2 linked regions of the Homo sapiens genome follow. The protein of the gene in region 1 interacts with the protein of each later gene in a pairwise test. Each region holds a gene or a part of one and is shown on either strand. Other genes may lie near its edges.

Evidence for each region. Proteins that work in one complex are often made in the same cells at the same time.
Region 2: the proteins of HSF2BP (region 1) and PLB1 interact in binary tests that used the Homo sapiens proteins (3 or more experiments, as listed by UniProt).

Annotation. Positions count from the first base shown.
Region 1 is NC_000021.9:43,631,695-43,635,641, forward strand, and holds part of HSF2BP (heat shock factor 2-binding protein), read right to left. Parts: intron 1,728-3,947; coding exon 1,578-1,727; coding exon of another isoform or gene 1,569-1,577; intron 1-1,568. UniProt on the Homo sapiens protein: Meiotic recombination factor component of recombination bridges involved in meiotic double-strand break repair.
Region 2 is NC_000002.12:28,494,391-28,497,990, reverse strand, and holds the start of PLB1 (phospholipase B1, membrane-associated isoform 1 precursor), read right to left. Parts: upstream 1,932-3,600; 5' UTR 1,877-1,931; coding exon 1,822-1,876; intron 1-1,821. UniProt on the Homo sapiens protein: Calcium-independent membrane-associated phospholipase that catalyzes complete diacylation of phospholipids by hydrolyzing both sn-1 and sn-2 fatty acyl chains attached to the glycerol backbone (phospholipase B activity).

The sequences.
Region 1 (3,947 bases):
TTACCTCCCCACTACTCTATGACATTAACTCTCCACTGTGTCAACTGACCTACTCACTGTCCTAAAACAAACCCACCCATTTTCTGCCATTTCTACCTATTCATCAAGGCCCATTTCAAATTTATCCCCTTCTGTGAAGTTCCCTGACAAATGCCTGCACGCATGCATACATGTGCGTGTGCACGCTCCCACACACACACATGCTCCCACACACCCACACGCTCCCACACACACGATCCCACATACACAGGCTCACAGGCACACACACTCCCCCCCCACACACGCTCCCCACACACACACTCCCACACACACAGGCTCCCACATACACACACATGCTCCCACACACACACACGCTCCCCCCCCACACACGCTCCCACATACACACGCTCCCACACACACACACGCTCTCCCCACACACACGCTCCCCCAAACACACACACGCTCCCACACACACACTCACACAGTCTCACACACACACGCTCCCCCACACACACACATGCTCCCCCACACAAACACACATACGATCCCACATACACAGGCTCACACACACACACACACACTCCCCCACACACACGCTCCCCCCACACACACACACAGGCTCCCACATACACACACACGCTCCCACACACACACTCCCCCACACACACATGCTCCCATACACACACGCTCCCACACACACACGCTCCCCCCCCACACACACACACTCCCCCACACACACATGCTCCCACACACACACACAGTCACACACACATGCACATGCTCAAACACACATGCTCACACACACACGCTGCCACACACACACACAGTTGAACCTTGAAAACAAGGGTTTGAACTGCACAGGTCCACTTACACAAGAATTTTCTTCAGTAAAAGTTACACCAAGTGTGTCTGCTGCTCCAGCCTCCCCTTCCACCTCCTCCACCTCTACCACCCTTTAGACAGCAATGCCAACCCAACCACTCCTCTTCCTCCTCCTCTTCAGCCTACTCAATTTGAAGATGATGAGGGGGAAGACCTTCATGATGATCTAACATACAAAAAATGTGTTAATCAACGATTTATGTTGTCAGTAAGGCTTCCAGCCAACAGTAGAGAGAGTCAAAAGTTCTATGTGGCTTTTCGACTGTGCAGGGGGTCAGCGCCTCCAACCTCCATGTTGCTCAAGGTTCTGCATCTATATGTATGTGTGTGTGTGTGTATGTATAAACACACACACACATCTACATACATGTATATATGTTAGATAACACAATATTCAATAAATACTATATTAACCATGAGATAATATATATAAAAGCACTTTTGATCTTCTTAAACACATGTAAAGTATTAATACTGAAGTGGTAATATGTCCACATATACCACAAGGTCTCCTGGAGAGAAGGGATCTTATTTCATTCCCTTTGCATCAGGTTACAATGAACCATATACGATAAGTATTCAATAACTAGCTGATGAGTGAACAAAAGAAAATGGAAAGATATGGACTTAGTCTTTAAATGCCTTAATAAGCTATATGCTCTAATTTACACAAGCAGTAATCAACAATATCTGGAGAGCCCACTGACCATACTTACTCCTCCCAAAATGGCCTTGACGACTTCCTCACTGCTGGAGACACCCCACAAGAGGGTACACGCTGCTGCTCCCATTTCTGTACAATACTCTGCCTGCTGCAGGAGTTGCTGCTTCGCTTCATTCAACTGCTGTCGAAGAGCCAGTTTCTCCTAAAAGCAAAACAAAATTGAAAAATAAATAATAGCATTCAACCTTGATATATCTTTATTACATTTCCTCTTTCACAAAGATATTTATTAAAGAAATGCATGTATAATTATAGAAAATAGTTGCAAATGAAAGCTAGTCCTAAGAGAACCATAATCTGTATCTACAAAAGAAATTTCAAAGGCAAAAATATTTGAGAAATATCTGAGGAAAGAACATACTACCACATTATGGTTGATAAACCCACAGAGCTGAATTCATCTGCTTTAAGTAACTACATGAAATATCTCAAGCCCCAAGTAACTATACCCAGAACCAGCACCAACCGAGGCTTCTGAACAAAAACAACCTCACAAAGCAATTTACCCAGAAAGCAACATTTCTAAGACAGGAGACTGCCTCCTCCAAATGGCTCACTCCATTGAAAAAACGCCATCTGCCAGAGGCAGACACCAAATAAAAGGCACTTGGACATCAGGATTTGTAAAAAAACAAGTACTTTAGAAAAACTCATCCTGTATAAACGTATCCTTAACTCCTCATGAGAATATTGCCAAAGGTGCCAGTAAATATAAAATACAATCTGTGAAGCTAAACAGGGAAAGAAAACCTAAAACCTAAGACCAGGTAGGAAAGATGGGAGGAGGGGCAAAAAGAAGTGTGAAGGCTGGGAGTCCTATTCATGCCCTGGTGCAGCAAGCCAGTGCCAGTCTAAGAAGAAGATGGAGGCTAGGAAGAGTTTCCTACTCTCCCACCAGCAGTGTCTGAGGTGACCTGTAGCTGGGCAAGTCTCCACCATGGCACTCTTCACAAGGGAAACACAGGGAATGGCCGTCCTGATGGCCCTCCTGACAACACAAGCACACTTCGAGGATTCACCTTGAGTGTACTGCTAGAGTGATGGGGGGCTTCCTGTCCTCTCCAACCACCAGCACCAGGTACCTGAAATTCCCTTAAAAGGTGATAGCATTTCCTGATTTAATAAGACAAAAACTGAAAAATATAAAACCCCAGTTAAATTCATTTATACCAAATGTAATTAGTTACATAAACCACAAAATTAAAGTATATTAAATGCTGTAGATTTTCTTTTAGAGAGATAAATACAAGACAAAGTAGAGGGGGCTTTTCACCCCCTGGAGGAAAAAGGGAGCTTTGGAGCCACAAATCAAAACTGTTGACCTCATAACTTGGATTAGGGTGGCCCACTCATAGTTACCTGGAGACAATGCGTTTGGCACACAGAGATTCATACACATTCATACGTATATGCACACATGTATTTAAGAAAAAAATGGCCACTGAGCCTCTGGCACATGCTAATACTGCATCATGTGATCTGTCAGCTCCGGGTTTTTAATGTCTTCATTATAGCAACAATCTGGACTCCTAGATTCATCCTTTCAGTGTACGTAGCTGAACACAAGTCATGGTGACACATGAAGAAAACTATGTCACAGCACTTCCTTTTGGAATTCTAGCTTTTCTCACAACTTAAGCTGTCTGCATCTCAATTAGTCAGGATATGGTGGTTCTTCTGCACGACCACAAAAAGACTACTGAGAAGAACCAGGAAGGACTTTGCTCACTACAGTCACATTTGGTAGTTGCAGGAGGATATTCCCCAACGCAGGGTTCCACACATAGTATAATAATATCAAAAAAAAAACAAACAAACCTCAAAGAAAATCATAGCATTCCCAGTAACATCAAAAATAAGAATAATTTTTTAAGGTGCAAGACCTATACAATGAAAACTACAAAGCATTACTGAGAGAAAGTAGAGCTAAATAAAGAGATACACCATGTTCAAAAATTGGCAGGATGTCAATTCTTCCCAAACTGATCTACAGATTCAACACAATCCCTATCAAAATCTCAGCAGACTTCTGTACAAAGTGATAATCTGATTCTAAAATTTCTATGGAAATTCAAGACAGAATATCTAAAAAATTGTCTGAAAAAGAAGAACAATGTTAGAAGACTAACAGTGCCTGATTTAGAGGAAAAAACTAACTATAAACCTACCGAAATAGAACCATTGTGGTATTGCTATAAGGATGGACATATAGATCAGTGAAACACTGACATGTCAACTGATTTTAACAAAGGTGCCAATGCAATTCAATGGAAAAAGGATAGTCTTTTCAACAACTGATGCTAAAACAACCGAATATTCATATGCAAAAAAAAAATAATTCAAAATGAATCATAGGGCCGGG
Region 2 (3,600 bases), on another chromosome or scaffold:
TCCCAGCTCTCTGGGAGGCCGAGGCAGGCAGATCACTTAAGATTAGGAGTTTGAGACCAGCCTGGCCAACATGGTGAAACCCTGTCTCTACTAAAAATACAAAAATTAGCCAGGCACGGCGGCAGGCACCTGTAATCCCAGCTACTCAGGAGGCTGAGGCAGGGGAATTGCTTGAACCTGGAGGGCAGAGGTTGCGGTAAGCTGAGACCAAGCCACTGCACTCCAGCCTGGGTGACACAGCCAGACTCTGTCTCAAAAAAAAAAAAAATAGAGAATATACAAATGGACAACGGTGGGACCACATATGATAACAGAACTCTGAGCCACAGTCTGCAATCGGCCAGGCCAGAGAACCAAACTGCAGCCTCTGCAGCAATCAGCCCAGAATGGTCAGGTTTGGTTAATGACTGCCATCTTCTCTATTTTTTGCTCTGCTTCCAACTCAGGACCCCTCAGAGAAAGCCAGATACACTCCCAACTGGATAACTTCAGATGCCGTGCCTCTAGTCAGCTGGTCCCTGATACCAACAACCTCCAACCAGAGCAGATCTGAAGATTTCCCTTTTTTCCACTGTGAAACTTTCCCACTCCCCTGCCTGCCTTTGAATCTTGGCCAAACATAAGTGATGTCTCGCTACAGCGAGCTCTGAATAAGTAGCCTCTGTTTGTCCTCATTTGGGTAGTCTACATTTATTTACACAAAATTAAGAATTTTGCTCATCAAAAGTCCCCATAGGAGGACAAGCTTCAGAGTGGAACAAGATATTTGTCATATATGTAACCTCCAAAGAGCTAGTACACAGCATATATGGAGAACTCCTAAAAAATCAATAGGAAAAAGACTTCAACAGGCACTTCACAAAAGAGAAACTCAAACAATCTCTATGAAAACACTCCTTGGCCTCATCAGTAATCAAAGAAATACAATCATCCTGTGCAGAAGGCATAGCAAGCATCGTCATTCTCCCCCACGGCTCAGAGCGGTAACTGACTTGCCCCAGAGAAGCCTCAAGCATGGGCTCAGACCCTAGGCAGGCCCAGGACTCTGTCCCATGCCTCCTCCACTCTCTCTGGGGAGTCAAGGGCAAGTGCCTTCTCACTCCAGACCCCGTCCTCTCATCTGGAGAAGATGAAAGATCTTTAAGGCCCTTTTCAGTTTAAAAGATTCTGCCTTCCTAAGCAAAGGGAGAGCCAATGATGGGAAGAAGAGGGGCAGAGAGGGATTGTGGCAGAGGCACAATCTACCCACAGTCATTAATGTTGGGGGGAATGGAAAGCCCTGGCTGGTTGCCCACTCAGTTCAATGAAAGCTCAGCACTCTGTTTAGCAGCACTAAAGAATGTAGGCAATCTTTTAGAATTTATCATCTGGAAATCTGTCTTCCTTTGTCCTTCAAAAACAAAACAAAGCTCATAAATGGTAATAGTAATGATCAAAATGTGCATAGTAGTAGTATTTCCATTTTAAGGATGAAAAAAATCAAGGTCCAGGGAGGTGGAAGAACTTGCCCAAAGCCACAAAGCACAAACAAATAGAATCCAGGGGTTTTTTTTGTACCATGGTACTGCTACCGGACTGCACTTCTCTCCTGTCCCAAGATCTGCCTCGCTCCCGGCAGCCTTTGGGACATGTAACCCTGTGTAGGCAGCCTCTGCATCCCATTCCGCAGGAGGCAAACCAGACTTCTTATTCTTGAACTGTACGCTTTGTGCTTTATCTCTTCAAAAGCACACACTCCTCTCACACACCCATTGCCTAAGCAACATGGGACACCAGCGGGGCTAAACCACTGGTTGTCCTCTGAGCAAAAGGCACGCTTACCTTGCCCCAGAAGCAGCAGCAGCTCCAGGAGGAAAATGCCTGGCCGCAGCCCCATGCCAGAATGCTCCAGGTGACTCGGGCCTCTGGAAGAGCTGCTCCAGCAGATGGATGGGCTATCACACCTCCTCCTGCTTTTATGTTCCTCTGTGTTCTGATAGAGCACCTGTCATAAATTTTACTGTGTTCACCTTTGAAAGGGGGTAGTGGCGGGCTGTAAATGATAAATATTAACACTTAGGCGGAAGAGTTCTTAAGGCAGATGAGTCAATGATGGGTAGCATGTTCTAGTCATAGACACTGACAGACCAGGGCCGCATAGCTGCCTCCATACAGCCTTCCATGATGGTGGGTGCCCAGAAATTGCCGGTGTTCGGGTCTGCTGGGAAGAACGTGGGCCTGGGAATCCCAGGTGCTGGTCGGAATTCCAAATCAACCACAGCTGTGGGAACTTGGGTGTATCCCTTAACGTGGCCTCAGCTTTCTCAGTTGTAAGCCAGGAGATCAAAAGTACCTTGTAACAAATGTAAACCATAAACCTACCTCCAAATGTGAAACGTGTTCCCACCGTGTCTCAGAAGCTCTGCTAGGTTCCCTGGTTTGCATGACACAGAGAGGTTTGTTCTGTTCCCCCCATCTCCAAACCCATGGGTGGCCAGTTGTGTTGGGTGGATGTGCACACCATAGATTTGTTGTCTGCATGTTGAATTCAGAGATACAAGCCAGAGAGGGGGAACCAAGTTTGACAAAATCAGCCGTTTCCTTTGGGTAAACTAAGTCAGGAATGCAGGCTGGGTCTAAACTGGGCAGACAAAGCTGGCATTTAAAGCCTGAGTGACAAATACCCTTGAGAGTAGAATTTAAATTTTTTACACAAATATCAAGAAACAATTGCCTTGGTTGATAGGAACAAATATATTTAAATTATCCTTGCTTTCTGGCCATGCTTGTGGGTGTGAGGCTGGGATCCTGACTTCTGAGGTCTAGCTAAGACTCTAGGGCTGGTTCCCATGACCCAACCTCAGATTCTGATCTCCTGGCTGACCCACTTTTCTCATATTTAAAAATCACAGCCAGACACAGTGGCTCACACCTGTGATCCCAGCACTTTGGAAGGCTAAAGAAGGAGGATTATTTGAACCCAGGAGTTTGAAAACCAGCCTGGGCAACTCCATCTCTACAAAAAATAAAAATAAATTAGCCAGGCATGGTGGCATGCACCTGTAGTCCCAGGTACTTGGGAGGCTGAGGCAAGAGGATTGCTTGAGCCCAAGAGTTCAAGGTTGCAGTGAGCTATGATTGCACCACTGCACTCCAGCCTGGACAAGAGCAAGATTCCATCTCAATTAAAAAAAAATTGTTTTTAATTACTGTTATAACCTCTATTGTCTTGAGTAGAAAGTGAAGACGAAGTGAGTGGCCCTTTGTTCCTGAATCTCTGGTTTTAGGATGTTGTCTCCCTTTCTCAACTGCTCAGAAAATATGTGACTTGTGGGTCACCACTGATTTAGCCAATGCCAAAGGCTTAGCCTAAGCCTCAGGACTGTAGGGGGGTATTGGGACATGCCAGAGGTGTGTGGACACTGACACACTTAGTCCAGCTGGCCATCAGCTAGTTCCAGAGCCTAGAAGAGGGCAGCACACACAGACACACAGAAAAGGAAGAAGAAAATACACCCAAGGCCAAGGTCTGTGGGGGACAAGTGAGCACAGATGCCCCTGGATATGTAGACACTTGTCAACTTCACCAAACTGCCCCCAAGTTCAATGAGAAGCCAGAGC